4 linked regions of the Homo sapiens genome follow. The protein of the gene in region 2 purifies or fractionates together with the protein of the main gene of each other region. This does not show direct contact. Each region holds a gene or a part of one and is shown on either strand. Other genes may lie near its edges.

Region 1 (4,083 bases), on a different chromosome or scaffold from region 2:
CATTTGCATTTCTTGTTTCCTGTGTCTGGAAATTTCTTCCCCTGCAAGGCTCTGTCTCTCACCCCCTTCTGGTCTTTGCTAAAAACGCCACCTACTTGATGAGGTTTTTCCTGATCCTCCTATTTTAAATTGCAAACACTTGGCTGGGCGCGGTGGCTCACACCTATAATCCCAACAGTTTGGGAGGCCGAGGTGGGTGTATCACCACCTGAGGTCAGGAGTTCAAGACTAGCCTAGCCAATATGGTGAAACCCCATCTCTACTAAAAATACAAAAAGTAGTCGGACGTGGTGGGCACCTGTAATCCCAGCTACTCGGGAGGTTGAGGCAGAAGAATTGCTTAAACCCGGGAGAAGGAGGTTGCAGTGAGCCGAGAACGCGCCATTGTACTCCAGCCTGGGCGACAAGAGCAAAACTCCGTCTCAAAAAAACAAAGAAAAAAATTGCAAACACTTAACTCCCCCACTCCATTCTCCTTCTCTAATTTTTTCTTTATAGCCCTTATCACCATCTGACTGACAGATTCTTTTAAATTTTGATATTTTGTTTGCCATGGATTTTTTGCATTTTGTTTTTTTAAAAAAACAATTGTATTAAAATACTGTTTATCTTGGTTACTGAGTTCTTTGCTCCCATTCCCTGCCCTGCTTAAATTTCGCTCTATTGGTTTATTGACTGTGTCCTCTCTAGAACACAAGCTACACTGAACGCAGTTAATTTTGTCTGTTTGGTTCACTTCACTGTCCCCAGTGTCTACAGCAGTGGCTTCTACGTGGTAGCAGCTCAAAAAATATTTTGTGAATGGAAGTTTGAATCTGTGTCTTAAAGACTGTCTTGGGCACTGTAATAAAGGCGTCTTTCTCAAACTGTTTCACAATTTTATACTATTTAAATGGAAAGCCCGTAAAAATCATAGGATAGATTAGAAACTACACTGCCCAGTGTGTCGTCATGGTTACACTGTCGCCAGTGGTTCTCCTATTGGGGGAGTGGGCGGGGCCTGGCAGGGGCAGGAAGAGCACCCTCAAGTCATCATAGAGTTATACCTCCCAAGTTCCTAGAAAGTACTTCCGGAACGGTGATTTACTCAAGGCTGCCCTGGCCAATCAACGATCTTGGGGAAAGCCGGGTACTCGCTCTTTGGCTACACTTCCGGAAAACCTCTCACGCGCGCCTAGCGTGGGGCGGGGCCAGAGCGCCCCTGCCCTCGGCCCCGCCTCCGTGAGCGCGGCTTTGCAATTGGCGAAAAGGGCAGGAGGCGGGGCTTAGGAGCGGGCTTGCTCGAGGCGCAAGCGCGCTGGCCCGGCACGGCGGTGGTCTTGCGGGAGGCGTGGGCTGGGATTGCGGTAGGTGAACGTGGGTGACTCCCAGACCTGAGGGACGGGCGCGGGCAGCGAAATGAAGCGAGCACGCGGTGTGGGCGCGGAGACCTAGGACCCTGGTGTCCGTTTTCCCACTTGCATCCCGTCCTTGAGTTGGGGCGGGCGAGAATCCCATAAACTTTTCGATACTCCTGGTCTCCGTGTCCTCCGTTGTAAAATGAGGGCAGCACTTCCTGGTCTCTCCCTCGGTCGTCGTGAGAGTCACACAGTTCTCGAAGTGCCAGCTCTGGAAAGGCCCTGGGACCACCTGCTGCCTGAGCCAGCCTTCCCGTTTTATGTTGGAGAAAACGGAGGTCCGGGGCGAAGTGAGTGGTCCAGGGTCACCGAGCGAGTGAAGGCCGAGCTTGTTCTTAGAACTAGGCCTAGGGTTCCATTGCTGTTTAATGTAGCACAGTTCGTGATGGAAACTGTAGGATTTGGAGGCGGGGACCTTGCCTTCCAGGCCCGACCCTGCGCTTATTTGCTGTGTGGCTTGACACAAGTGACTTTATATTTCAGAGCCTCCCTTTTCTGAGTTGGGCATAATAATAATAATAATAGCACTTTGTGAGACTTAATATTATGTATCAGGTACGGTTGTAAACGCTTTAGGTACAACTTTTCTGATTAGATTGGGGGGCAATGGTGAGTCAAAGAATCTTTAAAAAGGCCTGGGCTGGAAGGGCTGACAGTGTCCCGACAGAGTAGGTACTCAAAAAAATCGACTGAATGTCTCAGAGGCTGTTTGCCAGAGCCTGAAGTGTTGCATACGTTAGTTACTGTATTGCTCCTGAAAAACTGAGATAATTCTACTTATTCTCCTGTTTGTATAAGCTGAGGGGTCTGAGGACAGACATGCTAAACGTGGAGGAGAAGAGTTTAAAGCTCTCGTTTAAATTATCCAGATAATTATATCATTGCACCTGTTTGCTTTGCTCTTAATTTATTAACATATTTGATCAACAGATAATAATAGCCTAAATAGTAGGCATTATGCGAGACTCTGAAATTTAAAGATGTATAAAACTTCATAAACTTGTAATTTCATCAAGGAATAGAATGTTAAACATCGACACTGACCTCCCCTCCTGGCCCCCGTACACACCCCCAGAAAGAAAAAAAATTGTATGTGAAACACCATTCGCTTCCAATGCCTGGCACACAATAGTTCCTCAAAAATATTTTTGGAGATGATTCTAATACAGTATACTAAAAAGAGGTGTGTGCAGTGGAGCACAGAGGAGGTGACTTTCTCTGTTTAGAGGGGTTGGAGAAAGTTTCTTGGAGTAAGTGAACCTTGAATTCCAGTTGGAATTGCTGGGGGTTGGGGGGAGGTCAGTCTGTTTCAAGAATAATGAGCAACTTGGGGAATGCTAGGATAAGAAGCTGGAAGAGGTGTGTTGGGATCAAAATGTGAAGAGCTTTGGTGCCATTCTGAGAAAATTATGAGAGCCAGCCGTTAATGGATTGTAAACAGGGGAGTGATTGGGTCAGCTATCTTTTTAGCTGGAGACTAATACGGAGACTGGACTGACAGGGTTCAAGAATTACTCCATTCATTCATTGATAGAACATGTATTGAGCCTGGGCACAGTGGCTCACACCTATAATCCCAGCAATTTGGGAAGCTGAGGCAGGTGGATCGCATGAGGCCAGGAGTTCAAGACCAGCCTGGGCAACATAGCAAGACTCCATCTCTATTTTTTAAGAAAGAAAAAAAGGAACATGTTATTGAGTGTCCACTGTGTCCAGGCACTGTGCTGAATGCTGCAGATAAAACTTGGAATAAAATAGACATAGCTGTCGTCTTCATGGAGTTTAAGACATTAGTCATTGGTGGTACACAGCTAGACCCCTGCAGTGGTTCTCCCAGTGGGGTCCCTGGACCAGCAGCATCTGTGTCACCTGGGAACTTGTTAGAAATACAGGTTCTCTGCCCACACCCCAAACTTACTAAATGAGAAGCTCTGGAGATGGGCCTCTGCAATCACTGTTTTAACAAACCCAACCGGGCATGGTGGCTCACGCCTGTAATCCCAGCACTTTGGGAGGCCGTGGCGGGCTGATCACTTGAGGTCAAGGAGTTTGAGACCAGCCTGGCCAACATGGTGAAACTCTGTCTGTACTAAAAATATGAAAAATAGTTGGGCATGGTGGCACATGCCTGTAATTCCAGCTACTCAGGAGGCTGAGGCAAGAGAATCTCTTGAGGCTGGGGGTACGGAGGTTGCAGTGATCTGACATTGCACCACTGCACTCCAGCCTGGGTGATAGAGTGAACTCTGTCTCTAAAAAAAAAAAAAAAAAAACAAGCCCTCCAGCGATTCTGATGCTCAATTAGATTTCAGAACCACTGGGTAACTGTAATGTAGCAAGTGGTATTGAGGGGCTAACCTAATGTTGAGGCAGTAAGGGCCAGAAAGGAGGGGGTGGACTTAAGGGAAACCTTGAGACAGACTCATTTGCTTTAGGAGGAATCAAGGATGAGTTTCTGGCTGGAGCCACTGCCCTAAGTAAGGTTGGATCACAAGGAAGTTATAGAGCCAGGGGTGAATCCACATGTGCCTTGCCTCCATGGCCCGTACGTTCCTACAACACCACACTAGGGCTCTGTGGCAGTGCCTGACCACCTTTAAACATTTGTACAGTGCACAGGGGAAATGAATGAGGCTGCTTGAGGTTGGAGGGGACAAGCTGGAGGACCTGAGGCTGCTAGAGGTAA
Region 2 (5,975 bases):
AAACTGTTGACATTTAGATCTATTTGAATCAAATGTAAGTGTTAATTGGTTCTATTAACCTTCATATTTTTTTCTTAGGTTCCGTTTAAGTCCAGCTGCCCGCAATATTCTGGAAAAACACTCACTGGATGCTAGCCAGGGCACAGCCACTGGCCCTCGGGGGATATTCACTAAAGAGTATGTGTTTGCTTTTTGTAATAACCAGTTCCATTATTTATTATGATCATGTTTTTTTGAAAGAAAATAAAAAGAGCTTATTCAGTCTTAAGATTTAAAAGGAGGTACACTGTTCTTCTTTTGTACTTTTAATTGCTTTTATCATTGTAAATTGTATTCTATGCAAGAGTTGTTTTCTGAATAATTATAGCATTACTGAAGAACAGCTCTAATTTGGTAACTAAGCAAGATCCTTAGAAGTGGTAATAAATGCAGAAAATTAGAGCGTAGAACAGTGAAACTTTATACAGTATTAAATATGTGAAATCATGCAATAACATTTACATTTCTAAAACAAGGAAATATATTTTTAAAAAATTATTTTCATTATCCCTTTGAATTTTATTCACTTGTGCTGTTATAAAGCAATTTCCATATACAGTTTGGTCTCTTTTTAGATTTTCTTTTCTATTTCACTGATCCATCTGTCCATGAGTTAGTACCATACTTTTTTAGTACCACACTTTTAATTAGAAATGTTTTATTGTATGCTTTAAAATCTGATAACAATAGCTTTGCTCTTTTTTTAAATCAGTTTTCTTAGTTCATTCTTATTTTATTATTCTTCCAAATGAATTTTAAGCAGTTCGTCTAGCTCCATGGGTAGGAGTGAGGGGTATTTTTATGGGATTGTATCACATTTTAAATTAACTTTGTGAGAACTGACATCTTTATCATGATGGGTCTTTCTGTTCTGCAACACTGGTTTAAATGTTTGTGTCTTTCCATTAGTTTAAATGTTTGTGTCTTTCAAAACAGATGGCCCCTGTTCTGTTGAAACTTAGTCTAGTAGGGTAGACAAAGATTAATCAAATAGGCTTATGAACTAATGTAAGATTTCAGTAGTGTTATGTGCTACATTTTTATTGGCAGTAATAGTAAATGTTTCAAATTGAGTTTATGTTTTAAAGCAATGTACTCATTCCATATTTATCTAATATTGATAGGAAATAAAAAATAATATTGGCCAGAATTTTTGTAAGTCGAGAGAGAGCAATGGTTGTTAAATTATAAGTGGCAGTGTTGGGCCAGGCAATGTTTTCTTTTTTCCACTGGGTTATTTTACTCTTCATGAAAGCTTTGGCTTACTGTTGGGTGTTTATTTTATTGAAAGCAGTATATAGATTTAATTCTTAGATATCCTCATTTATGTGTATTACACTCTTACTAATTTGTTAACTGAATGTATGTGGTTCTATCACACACATACTGTGAAGTTCGTGCCACACTGCATGAGTTGGAAATCAGCTGTCCTGAGAGCTGACTGAAAGGCAACATCCCAGACCATGGGATTTTTAGTTAAAGGATTTAAAAGTTACACTTAGCTGTAAAAAATTAAAATTAAGAACCTTGGTTGCCAGTTAATCCCAGTTTTTTCCCCACACCAATCCTGATTTGTGTCTACTGTTGGTATCTTAATCTTGTTAGTCTCTACCAGTCTGTGCCTTAGTAGCACTCTCTGTAAAAATGGGAGAAAGCAACTATTTTTATAACAAAGTAGATTTGCCTTGCTCATAATTCTGAGGATTAGGAATAAGAGTCTGTATTTAATTCATTAATCTTTGAGGATTTGGTGAAATGTAAAATAATGATTGCTGCACCTTAGGGGGATCAGTTCTGCAAATTTGTGTAAGATAAACTGGAGCAGAAAAAGATGAGATAAGGAGATAAATTAATAGGCTCCTAAAGTAATCCATGTAAGAGGTAATGAATACTTGAATGTGGTTAGAAGAACTAAAAGGGAGATCCCTGATACAGACAACATTGTAAGGATAAAGTCCAGAAGCCTTTGCAGATTAAATGTGGAGTGTAGGCCAGAGTAGCAACAAGTAAGGGAATGAATTTGGATCTGGTCTAGGTGATGATAGTTTGGTCTCCATAAATAGAAATAATGGATTTGGGAAGCATTTGTTTTGGTGGAGTTAGTAATGTTTGAAGCTTATTGTCAGGACTTAGAAGCCATGTAGGTATTGGGATCAATGAGATGAAGATGTATCTCAGGAGATAGTTGGGGATTAGAGAGGTAGATTTGGTAGATAATAAAGCAATAGTTATAATTGAGATCATCAATAGGGAAACTAGAGGTTAAAATCCTTGAGTTGGAGGATACCTGGGAAATGTGGGAAAAGTCAAGGATGGTAGGATCTAAGAAAAGCCTCTTAAATTTGGTAATATGGTGTTCAGTAGTGTGACAGCAGTAAAATAAAGAAATAAAGGTTTCTTCCTTCCTTTTCTTTCCATGTGTGCTTAATACATATATGATGCGCAAATATCTTTTTTTAAACCTGAGTTGAAAGTTATAATATTAATGAAACATTTCTTAAGAACAAAATGGTATTATCTCCTGAATACCATAAGGAAGCAGTATTAAAGAGTTAGGCTTTTAGTATTATTGCCATCTTTTCTACCCTGTTACCCTTTTCTCTTCCCTGCCTTTATTCCTTAACTCTCCACGAGAAAGGCATCAGCCTTTGGTCTTCAAAATAAGAACTAGTACAAAAGATTTCATGAGAAAAATGGATCCTGAAAGCATATATTATTGAGGATTTTTGCTTTTCTATACTGCTAAAAATGCCTGCATTTTAAGTTTATCATTAAGGTGAGCTTTGGAAAAAATTTTAGCCTAATGTCGTCTTCTGCTATGGTTGAAAAATTGCAGGCTTTGGCATAGCTGTCCCCAAAATATCTTAGCACACTTTTTTATTTTTTAACGTTTTGAATTTTTTTTTCTTTAAGAGAGAGACAGGCTCTCACTCTGTCACCCAGGTTGGGGTGCTGTGGTGTATTCATAGCTCACTGCAGCTTTGAACTCCTAGGCTGAAGTGGTCCTATCACCTCAACCTCCCAAATAGTTGGGACTACAGGTGTGCCACCATGCCTGGCTAAATTTTTAAAACAGTTTTGTAGAGACGGTTTCTCACTAGGTTGCCCAGGCTGGTCTCAAGCTCTTGGCCTCAGGTGACCCTCCCACCTCAGCCTCTCGAAGTGCTGGGAATGCAGACGTGAGCCACTGTGCCCAGCCAACACACGTTCTTGACACGGTGAGGACATGCTCCATACCATGTCCACTAAAAGTCTGGGTAGAAAAATCAGTTCCAAATGCTGAAGGAAATGCCTCCAGCCCACTGTATTTGTGAAGAAAATCTTGGGTATCAGGGCTGCTATTTTAATTTTGCCTTAAAACAAGCATTGCTCAGAATACATGTTGTACCAAAGAATATAGACTTGACTTTGCTTGTACATGTGACTGTTTTAAGAAAGCAGTGTCGAGGCCACAATTAGAAGCAGAACACATTTAGTTTCTTTGCCTGCAGCCCCAATGTCTTTGGTACATCTGTGTCCTAAATCATAGTTGTAGTAATGTTTGTATTCATCACACAGCATCAAAAATTAGGTAAGTATGACAGGCAAGTGCCTAGTGTGTTTTAGTGGTATTTTCAAAATGAATTCATGTCACACCCAAATGAATTGCTCTCTCAGGGAACCCAGTAGAGAAGGTTGTACCTGAGTTAACTTCCAGAGCATCCTCTGCCTATCTGCCTATTTCTGCCAGTGGCCAGAATGAATTTGTGTGGTATATTTTTCTCCTAATTTTTATAGCTTTTAATGTCTACCTAATGCTCCAAGTTTAGTCTGATTATTTAATGTGCAGAAATCATTAAAACCATTTTCTGCCTCACAAAAAACTAAATCATTGGCTGTTACTAAACAATAATTAAGATTTATACTTCATAGGTATGTAAGTATAAAATCAGCAATAAAAAGACCAGGTGCAGTGACTCACACCTGTAATCCCAGTGCTTTGGGAGACCAAGGCTGGCGAATCACTTGAGGCCAGGAGTTTGAGACCAGTCTGGCCAACATGGTAAAACCCCATCTCTACTAAAAATATAAAAATTAGCCAGGCGTGGTGATGCACACCTGTAATCTCAGCTACTAAAGAGGCTGAGGCATGAGAATCTCTTGAACCCTGGAGGCGGTGGTTGCAGTGAGCTGAGATCGCGCCACTGCACTCCAGCCTGGGTGACAGAGTGAGACTCTTTAAAAAATAAAAAAAAAATAAAATCAGCAATACAAGTTTTTGTGAGCAAGAAGAAGCAATTTTGTTCTTGCTTCTTTATGATTAACCTACCCAAGAACCTTAATTACTACAGAGATAAAACTAAACTGCTTTTTAAAAAATAAAGTAGCAGTAATAGTTATGCTAAATATGTAATATTAGCATAACTAATATTAGCTATTAGCATAACTAATATTAGCTATTAGCATAACTAATATTAGCTAGCTATTAGCATATTATTAGCATAACTAAATATTACATATTACTAAATATGCTAATAAGTAATAGTTATGCTAAAAATGTGTCAATTTAGTGTCAGCAACCTTTTTTTTAAATAGATGTATTCGGGCATTAACGATACAGATTTTTGCACCCCAGTTAGACTGTTCCTGCTTGTGTTGATATTCTATTATTGCATAACAAGTTACAGTAAACTTACCAGCTTAAAATAATACCTGTTTGTTTTCTAACAGTTCAATAGGTTAGAAGTCCTGGCATAGCATGGCCAGGTTCTGAACTCATGGTCTCACAAGGCTGAAATCAAAGTGTTGGCCAAGGCTGGGGACTCATGTGAAGCTTGGGGTCCTCTTCCAAGCTCATGTGGTTGTTGACAGAATGCAGTTCCTTGGGACTGTAGGACTGTGGCCCTTGTTTTCTTTCTAGCTCTCAGCCAAGAACCACTGACAGCTCCCAGAGGCCACGTGCAGGGCCTTGCCATGCGTGGTCTCCATAGGCGGTTCACAACATGCATGTTTGCTTCTCCCGGGCCAGCAGTTTTATCTCTTTACTTCAAGTCTCTTCTTCCAGGAAGGCCTAATTTCTTTTAAGAGATTACCTGATATATCTGCCCTCTCCAGGGTAGTTTGCCTTTTGGTTAACTCAAATGCAACTGATTTGGAGCCTCATATATCTATAAAATGCCACCAATTTTGTCACATAATAGGACCTAATAATGGGAGTGACATCCATCATATTCACAGGCCAGATACAGTCAAGAGGGATGATATGGGGCATGTACACCAGGGGCAGGAATATTGGGGCCATCTCAGAATTCTTCCTACCATGTTGCCATAAGTAAAGGGGTCTTCTCAAATATGCTCAACAGGTGCTAGCTTTTATCTTTCATCAAATTTTTGGAAAAATAATACCAAAATATTAACTGAGAAATAATTTTTCCTTAGATTTTGTGTCATCCTGAAGTTCTTTTTAGATTATATAAAACAATTTTTTTTCTTAAATTGGAAAAAATACTTTCCAAAATACTTATTGGATATTAAAATGTTCCAAAAATTATTTTAAGAAAATATATTGCCTAATACCACTGTAACTTAGCATAGTGAGTTGAGGGCTTAGCATATTTAGTAATCTAATTATATCCTCTTACAAGACAAAAATACCTTTGTTTTACAGAGTAATACAAAGGCAAGTCTGTAACTAGTTATTTTTCATTCTAAAAGATATCATAGGTTAGATTTGTTATATTAGATTGTACTGATGGCATATTAGCAAAATTAAAAATGGTTTGATTTCCTGGTCATAAATAAGCTGATTTGCACTATAATAAACAATGAATAAACAATAAGTGAACAATGATGTAGGAAGTATCCTGGTGAAAGCCATATTTACAATAAACTTGACACTTTTTGAATGCCATGTGAATATTATTTCATGAGTATAAAGGATGAGAGTGGTTTAATTA
Region 3 (5,975 bases), on a different chromosome or scaffold from region 2:
AGGAGTTTAGGGTACCCAGAGGCTAGTGGGAACAGGGGTTTGGGGTCCCCCAGAGGCTCATGGGAGCAGAAACTTGAGTCATCCAGAGGCTCATGGGAGCAGGAATTTGGGGTTCCCCAGAGGCTCATGGGAGCAGTTTAAGGTCCCCCAGAGGCTCATGGGAGCTGGAGTTTAGGGTCCCCCAGTGAATCATGGGAGCAGGAGTTTTAGGGTCCCCCAGAGGCTCATGGGAACAGGGGTTTGGGGTGCCCCAGAGGCTCACGGGAGCCAAGGCAGTCTTCCCAGTGCGGTAGAGCATAGGGTCTGAGCAGATTGAGGCCCCAGGACTCCTCCTCATGTCCCACCCTACTCCAGCCCAGCACCCCCCTATGGGCTCTTCGTTGGGGGCCGTTTCCAGGCTCCTGGGGCCCGAAGCTCCAGGCCCATCCGGGATTCGTCTGGCAACCTCCATGGCTACGTGGCTGAGGGTGGAGCCAAGGACATCCGAGGTGCTGTGGAGGCCGCTCACCAGGCTTTCCCTGGGTAAGGGGTCACACGGGAAAGCCCAAGGGTCATGGTGTGGCAGAGAGGGGAGCCTGCCCACAGCAATTGGTGGACTGGGAGGCTGGGCCCCCAGGGTAGGGGCTGTGGACAGAGGTGGGGTGTCAGGAGAGCCAAGACCAGGATGCCAACCCCCACTGTGCGCTGTCTGCCCACAGCTGGGCGGGCCAGTCCCCAGGAGCCCGGGCAGCCCTGCTGTGGGCCCTGGCGGCTGCACTGGAGCGCCGGAAGTCTACCCTGGCCTCGAGGCTGGAGAGGCAGGGAGCGGAGCTCAAGGCTGCGGAGGCGGAGGTGGAGCTGAGCGCAAGACGACTTCGGGCGTGGGGGGCCCGGGTGCAGGCCCAAGGCCACACCCTGCAGGTGAAGGGTCTGTGGGCACCTGGGCCAGCTGGGCAGGCGGGGTGGGGCTCAGACCAGAGGCTGTGAGATAACCCAGGCTTGGAATTCGGGCCCAGCCCCACCGCCTTCCACGGCAGGATCATCAGCAAGTGGCTTCACCTCTCCCTACCTCAGTTCCCTCATCTGTACAGTGAGTGGGCACACAACCCGCCTCGTAGAGTAGCGTTCGCCAGATGATGGATAGCGACCCATTCCTGGACCCTAAAATCAATTTAGTGGGCTGTTAGGCGGTTCTCACATTGCTGTAAAGAAACACCTGGGGGCGCAGTGGCTCACGCCTGTAATCCCAGTACTTCGCGAGGCTGAGGCAGGCGGATCACGAGGTCAGGAGATCGAGACCAGCCTGGGCAACACGGTGAAACCTGGTCTCTACTAAAAATACAAAAAATTAGCTGGGTACGGTGGTGGGCACCTATAGTCCCAGCTACTTAGGAGGCTGAGGCAGGAAAATTGCTTGAACCCAGGAGGCAGTGGTTGCAGTGAGCCGAGATCGTGCCACTGCACTCCAGCCTGAGTGACAGAGTGAGACCTTGTGTCACAAAAAAAAACAAAAAACAAAAAATACCTGGCCAGACATGGTGGCTCACGCCTGTAATCCTAGCACTTTGGGAGGCAAAAGTGGGTGGATCGCTTGAGGCCAGGAGTTTGAAACCAGCCTGGGCAACACAGTGAAACCCTGTCTCCACAAAAAATAGATAAATTAGCTGGGCATGTTGGCACCAGTCTCCCTCTGGCACCCGGCTGGAGTGCAGTGCCACAATCATGGCTCACTGCAGCCTCAACCTCCGAGGTCCAAGTGAGCCCCCCACCTCAGCCTCCTGAGTATCTGGGATCACAGGCACACACCAGCACACATGACTGGGTGTTTTTGTATTTTTGCAGAGACAAGAGACTCGCCATGTTGCCCAGGCTGATCTTGAACTCCTAGCTTCAAGTGATCCGCCTGTCTTGACCTCCCAAAGTGCTGGGATTATAGGCGTGAGCCACTGCGCCTGGCCAGGGATTACATTTCAACATGAGATTTGGGTGGGACATCTGAACTATATCATGGGCCAAACCATATTTCTTTCTTTCTTTTTTTTTTTTTTTTGAGACAGAGTCTCGCTCTGTCGCCCAGGCTGGAGTGCAGTGGCGCAATCTCGGCTCACTGCAACCTCTGCATCCCAGGTTCACGCCATTCTCCTGCCCCAGCCTTCCGAGTGGCTGGGACTACAGGTGCCCACCACCACACCCGGCTAATTTTTTTTTTGTATATTTAGTAGAGACAGGGTTTCACCATGTTAGGATGGTCTCGATCTCCTGACCTCGTGATCCGCCCACCTTGGCCTCCCAAAGTGCTGGGATTACAGGTGTGAGCCACTACACCCGGCCTTCTTTTTTTTAAATTTTATTTTACTTTAGTTCTGGGATACATGTGCAGAACGCGCAGGCTTGTTACATAGGGATACACGTGCCATGGTGGTTTGCTGCACCTATTGACCTGCCCTCTAAGTTCCCTCCCCTTGCCTCCCACCCCCCAACACCATATTTATTTTTAACAAAAGAAAATAGACCAGGCGCAGTGGCTCACGCCTGTAATCTCAGCACTTTGCGAGGCCAAGGTGGGCAGATCACAAGGTCAAGAGATCGAGACCATCCTGGCTAACACAGTGAAACCCCGTCTCTACTAAATATACAAAAAAAAAAAATTAGCCGGGCATGGTGGCAGGTGCCTGTAGTCTCAGCTACTCAGGAGACTGAGGCAGGAGAATGGCGTGAACCCGGGAGGCGGAGGTTGCAGTGAGCCAAGATCGCACCACTGCACTCTAGCCAGGGCGACAGAGTGAGAGTCCGTCTCAAAAAAAAAAAAAAAGAAAGGCGGTTATGCAGGATGTTTCTCACCGCCCGAACCCCCGTGGAATGATTCACTTTGACCAGCGTCTGCGAAATGGCAGGGGCTTCCACAATGGTGCGGTTTGGGCCAACACCAAGTGTTGGGGAGAATGTAGAGGAACTGGATCTCTCATTTACTGCGGGCGGGGCTCCCCTGCCCCACACGTGACCCACCTGTCCCTGCAGGTAGCCGGGCTGAGAGGCCCTGTGCTGCGCCTGCGGGAGCCGCTGGGTGTGCTGGCTGTGGTGTGTCCGGACGAGTGGCCCCTGCTTGCCTTCGTGTCCCTGCTGGCTCCCGCCCTGGCCTACGGCAACACTGTGGTCATGGTGCCCAGTGCGGCCTGTCCTCTGCTGGCCCTGGAGGTCTGCCAGGTATAGCCCCCTGCCTTCCTGCCTCTCCTCCCCGTAGCCTCAGGGCAGCAGAAAAAGGCGCCCCAAAGTCGGCAGGAGCTTGTCTCTTACCCCACCCTCCGTGGTACCCATGCTGCCCCCAGCCCCAGCACCCAAACCTTCACTCCTTGGGGACCCAGTGCCCATTCTTCACCCTAGGCCTGGGGCTTTCTCCTCCATGACCCCCCATCCCCTTCCCTCCCATGGGCACCCCCTGAATGCCCACTCCTTGCCCTGCCCCCACGGCCTCCCCAACCTTTCACTCTCTCTATCCCCTAGGACATGGCCACCGTGTTCCCAGCAGGCCTGGCCAACGTGGTGACAGGAGACCGGGACCATCTGACCCGCTGCCTGGCCTTGCACCAAGACGTCCAGGCCATGTGGTATTTCGGATCAGCCCAGGTGCTCTTTGTTCTGTTTTGCCATCTTCAGCATCTCAAACTTCAAACAGGCTCCTCCTTTTCTGGAAACACAGCCCCGCCCTCTTAGAACTCCTGTTGGTAAGGGGAGAAACTCCTTGACAAGAAGGTTTTGAGGCCCCGCCCTTAGGACTCAAGTTACTAAGGAAGAGGCTGTCCTTAGCAACAGGGGCCTGAGAGCTGCCTAGCCCAAAGACCTCGTCTCAGGGGACAGCCCGTTGCTAAGGACCACACCCTAGATTTGGAGGCCCACAGTCTACGCTTTGTTTTTCTATTTTGAGACAGAACCTCACCCTGTCACCCAGATGCAATCATACCTCACTGCAGCCGCAACCTCCCAGGCTCAAGCCACCGTCCCACCTCAGCTTCCTGAGTAGCTGGGACCACAGGCGTGCACCACCATGCCCAGCTAATTTTTTTCTTTTGCAGAGACTGGGGTTTCTCTATGTTGGCCAGGCTGATCTTGAACTCCTGGGCTCAAGTGATCTGCCCGCCTCGGCCTCTCAAAGTGCTGGGATTACAGGTGTGAGCCAGCACAACTGGTTGAGTCTACTGTTTTTTTTTTTATTTTATTTTATTTTATTTTATTTTTTTTGAGACAGAGTCTCACTCTGTCGCCCAGGCTGGAATACAGTGGCACGATCTTGGCTCACTGCAACCTCTGCCTCCCGGGTTCAAGTGATTCTCCTGCCTCCCAAGTAGCTGAGACTACAGGCACTCACCGCCATGCCCAGCTAATTGTTGGGGGTTTTTTTTTAGTAGAGATGGGGTTTCGCCATATTGGCCAGGCTGGTCTCGAACTCCTGACCTCGCGTGATCTGCCTGCCTCAGCCTCCCAAAATGCTGAGATTACAGGCGTGAGCCACTGTGCCCAACCAATTTTTACTTTTTAAATGGAGACGGGGTCTCGCCATATTGTCCAGGCTGGTCTCAAACTCCTGAACTCAAGCGATCCTCCCGCCTCAGCCACCCCAAGTGCTGGGATTACAGGAGCGAGTCACCGCGCCCCACCGTCCACTCTCTTAAACCTCCTGTTGGTAACAGATGTGAACTTGTTGACAAGAGCCTTGGGGCCCATTCCTTTCAACATGGGCTGTTAAGGGAGAGGAAATTCCCTAACCACTGGGTCCAGTGCTTTTCCCTACCATCTGGAAGTTCTGCTTGGGAGGAGCTGGGCATTGTAGCTGCAGAGCCTGGGTCCAGCCTGAAGCCCCTCGTCAGTAACAGTCTTCATCGCGGAGGAAGCAGGTGCTCAGCAACAAGCCTGCAGAAGTGCTTACCCCCGTCTCTTCCTCCCCTCAGGGTTCCCAGTTTGTCGAGTGGGCCTCGGCAGGAAACCTCAAACCGGTGTGGGCGAGCAGGGGCTGCCCGCGGGCCTGGGACCAGGAGGCCGAGGGGGCAGGCCCAGAGCTGGGGCTGCGAGTGGCGCGGACCAAGGCCCTGTGGCTGCCTATGGGGGACTGATGCCTGAGCGCCACCTACTGCATTTTGGACACCTCACACCAAGGGGAGATGCACCCCACAGACACCTGGGACTTTCCCCTTCTGGTTCCTGTGTCTCCCAATAAACTCTCTGACCAACCCTAGCTGTGCTTCTGCGAGAAGAAAGGGTGTAGCAACTTCTGGCAGATATGAGGCTTTTTTCTTTTTTTTTTTTTTTTTTGAGACAACGTCTGGCTCTGTCACCCAGGCTGGAGCGCAGTGGCACAATCTCGGCCCACTGCAGCCTCGACCTCTGGGGCTCAAGGGATCCTCATGCCTCAGCCTCATATGTAGCTGGGGCCACAGACATGCACCACCACACCTGGCTCGAGGCCATTTTAGTTCTGAGGTTGAGCAGCTCAGGAGCCGGCTCCAGCACGGTGCTGTGTTTGTGAAACAGAGAAAGGGGACCCCCGAGGACCCCAGACAGGGCCTTAGGACTCTCATATCTTCTTGTCTTCTCCATCTGGTGGCTCTTGCTCTCTGGTTTTCTCTACCTTTTCATGGCCCCAGAATCCATATGCAGTAAAGGAACTCTCTGGAATAAAATTAAAGTCCTCCTATATGACTTTTGTCAATTTCCATGATGTAAATGCTCCCACCGTGCCGGATTTCAAGGTACAGGTGATTAAACAACTGCCTGCGAGATCCTGAATTGTTAACAGGTCAGCTCCCATGAGCCAATACGAGCCGCTTCAGCACACCACTGCCTTAGGATTCTGGTTGTGGGTGGGTTTTTTTGGTTTGTTTTTTGTTTTTTCGAGACAGAGTCTCTCTGTCGGCCAGGCTGGAGTGCAGCGGGGTGATCTCGGCTCACTGCAACCTCCGCCTCCCAGGTTCGAGCGATTCTCCTGCCTCGGCCTCCAGAGTAGC
Region 4 (4,169 bases), on a different chromosome or scaffold from region 2:
GTAGCTTGTTTGTAATAGTAAGAAATTGGAACCAATTCAAATATTCTTCTCTAGGGGATTAGGTAAATAAATTATGGAGTACCCGTAAAATAGATTACTGTGTAACTGTTTTAAGAAATGAAGAAGCTCTTTATATGCCAATGGGGGTGTTCTCCAGAGTATAAATAAAAATTAAGGTGTAGACCAGTATGTATAGAATGATACCATTTTGAAGAAAAGTGTTTTTACACGTGCATGTGTATACAATATTAAAATATTTCTAGAAGGATGATGAACACTGGATACAGGTTTTACTTGACCTTTTTATACCTTTTCAGTTTTATGTCATGTAACATAGTACGTATTCAAAAAATAATTTGAAAAAAGATGGTTTAATACAATTTAATGTTCATTCCTGATTTAAAAAAATCTTAAAGTATAGAAAGATGCTTCTTTAATGTGTTAAAAATCTAAAACCGACAACAATCATGTATAATGCAATGAAATAAGATGTGAAACAATACAAGAAGTTATTATTTTTAGATGATGTGATTGTTTAATCTGCAAAATCCCAGAAAATCAGCTCACAGTAATTAGCTGGACTCACTAAATGTTTAAGAATCCATACCTCTTCTAGTTATAAAAGAAAATAGAGAAAAGAATCCAAGAAAGTATAGCTACAGATAAATAAAATATTTAGGACTATCCTTCAAAAAGTGAGTAGGACCTATGTGAAAAAAACTACAGGATAAAGACAGATTCTTCCTTCACAGTTTTGAATACATCTAGAATACATTTTGATAAGTTGATTTTTTTTTAAGTTAAAAACTATATAGATAAATGTTGACTTTCAGAATGGAAAAGGATTTTATAAGTATAAAAGGAGCAGAAAAGTAAAGCTAAAATATTGAATCTCTAAAAATTAGAAATTTCTGTATGTCAGTAAGTCATTGAACTGGGAGAAATATATGCAGAAAAGGTTACATTCTAAAATAGAAAAAAGCATTACACAGCAGTAATAACATTAATTCCTCCATATAAAGATTAACAATGTGTTATTATATTAACATTCTTTACAGATAGGTCTCTCCTGTATAAGTGTCTGCTTTATAAGGATGGAATCCATGGCTTCTTTATTTTCCTGTTTGACAGTAGCATGATGCTTTGTGTATAATGGCATTTGATACATACTTGTTGAATTAATATTGCCAGAAACCTTGTAGTTTGCCAGTTTGACTCTTGTTTACAGATTTATAAAGATACAAGAGATCTTTTAGCTTAAGTAACTTGTCCAAAATTACAGAATGAGCTGTTGACAGATCTGAGCTATCTGTAAGATGGGGCTGATAATAGTGTCTCAAAGTTGTTGTGAAGTTTGAGTGAGCCACTATATGTGGAACACTTAGCATAGTGCCTGAAACATAGTATGAAAGAAACATATCTGTTAAGATAAAAATGTGTATTAATTTAATGGAACAGCTCTCTGCTGCCTAAAATCACATACTCTCACCCCCAGATACTAACCATAGGCCTGTATGGTCACAGGCAGTTGAATAAAGATGTGAAATTTAATGCATGAAAATGTAGTGAGACATGTTACCACAAAATTGATATAAAGACCATGATGTCATGACTCAGTAGAGTAAGGCTGTGTGGTAACCTTATTTGATGTGGCCCTAAACAGTAGGGATACAAAGAAAACAAAGGTCATTAGAATACAGATAATTAACAAGAGCATACCATAGATCATGTTCATCAGCTGAAAATGGAATGCATCCTTAAAATGAAGGCTTTGAGTGACAGAATTGCCAGCACAGTCCTACTGTGTGAAAGAACTGAAGTTACAATCCATTCTTCACAGTGTGTCTGTAATGTGAGGACTGCTTTATATAGAAAAATCTTACAGTCACTTTTAAATATAGGGATATTGTCAGCGTTTTCTAACAGGAAGATAATTTTGTGCTTCATAAGTAAGAGGCCTTTTAATATCCGAATAGGCAGTTACTTGTAACTATACAGTAACTCAGTAATTACTGTCTTACATGCTTAGCTTGCTCTGTGTGACAGAGTATCTGTGTAGATAGGTCTGAGCGCCAAGATGGATGGGTGAAATGCTAAAGTGATAGTTTTACTCTTTTTGTTTGTTAAATTTAGGTCCACTTTAAAGCATAGGATTTTCAATGCTTTTCTAAAAATTCATTTTAAATTTCATTTGTAGGTGCTGTGTATGATGTGAGTCACTATAATGCTTTACTTAAAGTCTATCTTCAAAATGAATATAAATTCTCACCAACTGATTTCCTGGCAAAAATGGAGGAAGCAAACATTCAACCAAATCGAGTAAGTAGTTGCTATTGTGAATATATTTTCACATCCACCATTTTTTTTCTTTACTCAGAAAAAAAAGTATATTTAAAATTAACTGGCCCATTTCATTGACAGGTGACATACCAGAGATTGATTGCTTCTTATTGTAATGTAGGAGATATTGAAGGTGCCAGGTATGGATCTGTATGAACATGTTTAAGCGAACAAATTTGTACATTTTGTAAATCTAATGTCTGTTCACTCTTTGTTTTAAAGCTTCTTCCTAATGGAGGAAATTGTTTCAGAACTGTTTTAATCTAGAAAATCTGGTAATCTGACTTACATAAAATATAAAATTATCGTGTAAGAGAGAAAAGATAAGTAAAAGTTGCTATTTTAATTAAAAATTTGATTTACTGGAGAGAGGTATAAAGTTGTTGAGCTATAAAGCTGACTTTGCTTTTTTTTTTTTTTTTTTAAATATTTCCTAAGGGAAATGTTCTTAACCATTTAAGCTGTATTCATTTATAAAACTGGAAGTAGTGTAGAAAATCAGTTGCACCATTTCTCTGCTTATGTAAAATTTATTACTACTTATGAATGGAAGGTTTGGAAAATAAGGGATAAATTGGAATACATAATTTCATTTTTATCTAAAAGAATCTTATGAAACTATGCTTTTAAAAGGGTAATTAGTAGTGTAAGACAAATCAGATAATCAGATTTTTAAAAATCTAGTATTTGTATCGATAGTACTTCAAGACTGTTGATACATTAGAGAGTGGGGTTTTGTGGGAAGGGGATCAAAGGGATTAGTTCTTTCTTTGTGGTTTCTAAAACAAATGTATATTACTATTATATTTTAAAAACAAAAGTAACTCAAGGCCTAATTCTGTACATGTTGTAAAGAGTGTTCTTATAAATACTTTCAATGAGTATCTTCGTTTTTCCTTTGCAGCAAGATTCTTGGATTTATGAAAACTAAGGATCTCCCAGTTACAGAGGCAGTATTCAGTGCCCTTGTGACAGGGCATGCCAGAGCTGGGTAATGTTCAACCTAAGGTTTTGGTTCTTAAGTGATAGATGGCTGAGATGCTAAAGTGGTCATTTTACTCCTTTTTTGTTTGTTAAGTGGGGTTTAAATTAGAGAAAATTATTGTAGACAGTTCTTAAAATACATTTGTCTATCCCTTCAAAAAAAAATCTGTAGTATATGAGGTAGAGCATACTAATATTTTTATAATGAGCTTTTACATTTGTTCCACAAATCTTTCTTTTATTTGAATTTTTAGAAATTGGGCTTGAAGCCGGGCGTGGTGGCTCATGCCTGTAATCCCAGCACTTTGGGAGGCTGAGGTGGGCAGATCACCTGAGGTCAGGAGTTCAAGACCAGCTTGGCCAACATGGTGAAACCCGGTCTCTACAAAAATATAAAAATTTAGCCGGGCATGATGGCAGGTGCCTGTAATCCCAGCTACTTGGGAGTCTGAGGCAGGAGCGTTGCTTGAACCCGGGAGGCAGAGGTTGCAGTGAGCCGAGATTACACCATTGCACTCCAGCCTGGGAGACAGAGCAAGACTCCATCTCAAAAAAAAAAAAGAAAAAAGAAACTGGGCTTGATCTGATCTGAAGTAACTGCTCTGGAAAATATTTTTATTTTTGAAGAGTAATTTACTAAATGTTATTCTTACCTCGAAAGTTAAGTCTGAGTCATAACCTACATAATATTAAGAGGGTATGTTATTTAATGTCTATGTAATTATTATTATTTTTTAATGGGGGATCAGATGTTTATGATCTTTATTATTTCAGAAACATATATCCAGTTTAATATACATTAGTTCTTTTCTGACATCATAATTCCAAATGGTACTTAGCATTTT

What was found.
Region 1: the proteins of PDHX (region 2) and PARS2 fractionate together in Homo sapiens (co-fractionation; one large-scale study listed by BioGRID). This does not show direct contact.
Region 3: the proteins of PDHX (region 2) and ALDH16A1 fractionate together in Homo sapiens (co-fractionation; one large-scale study listed by BioGRID). This does not show direct contact.
Region 4: the proteins of PDHX (region 2) and LRPPRC fractionate together in Homo sapiens (co-fractionation; one large-scale study listed by BioGRID). This does not show direct contact.

What each region holds. Positions count from the first base shown.
Region 1 is NC_000001.11:54,761,724-54,765,806, reverse strand, and holds the start of PARS2 (probable proline--tRNA ligase, mitochondrial precursor), read left to right. Parts: upstream 1-1,283; 5' UTR 1,284-1,346; intron 1,347-4,083. UniProt on the Homo sapiens protein: Mitochondrial aminoacyl-tRNA synthetase that catalyzes the specific attachment of the proline amino acid (aa) to the homologous transfer RNA (tRNA), further participating in protein synthesis.
Region 2 is NC_000011.10:34,960,342-34,966,316, forward strand, and holds part of PDHX (pyruvate dehydrogenase protein X component, mitochondrial isoform 1 precursor), read left to right. Parts: intron 1-78; coding exon 79-177; intron 178-5,975.
Region 3 is NC_000019.10:49,465,384-49,471,358, forward strand, and holds the end of ALDH16A1 (aldehyde dehydrogenase family 16 member A1), read left to right. Parts: intron 1-354; coding exon 355-522; intron 523-698; coding exon 699-900; intron 901-2,997; coding exon 2,998-3,183; intron 3,184-3,480; coding exon 3,481-3,603; intron 3,604-4,922; coding exon 4,923-5,084; 3' UTR 5,085-5,667; downstream 5,668-5,975.
Region 4 is NC_000002.12:43,975,305-43,979,473, reverse strand, and holds part of LRPPRC (leucine-rich PPR motif-containing protein, mitochondrial precursor), read left to right. Parts: intron 1-2,197; coding exon 2,198-2,319; intron 2,320-2,421; coding exon 2,422-2,480; intron 2,481-3,244; coding exon 3,245-3,331; intron 3,332-4,169. UniProt on the Homo sapiens protein: May play a role in RNA metabolism in both nuclei and mitochondria. In the nucleus binds to HNRPA1-associated poly(A) mRNAs and is part of nmRNP complexes at late stages of mRNA maturation which are possibly associated with nuclear mRNA export.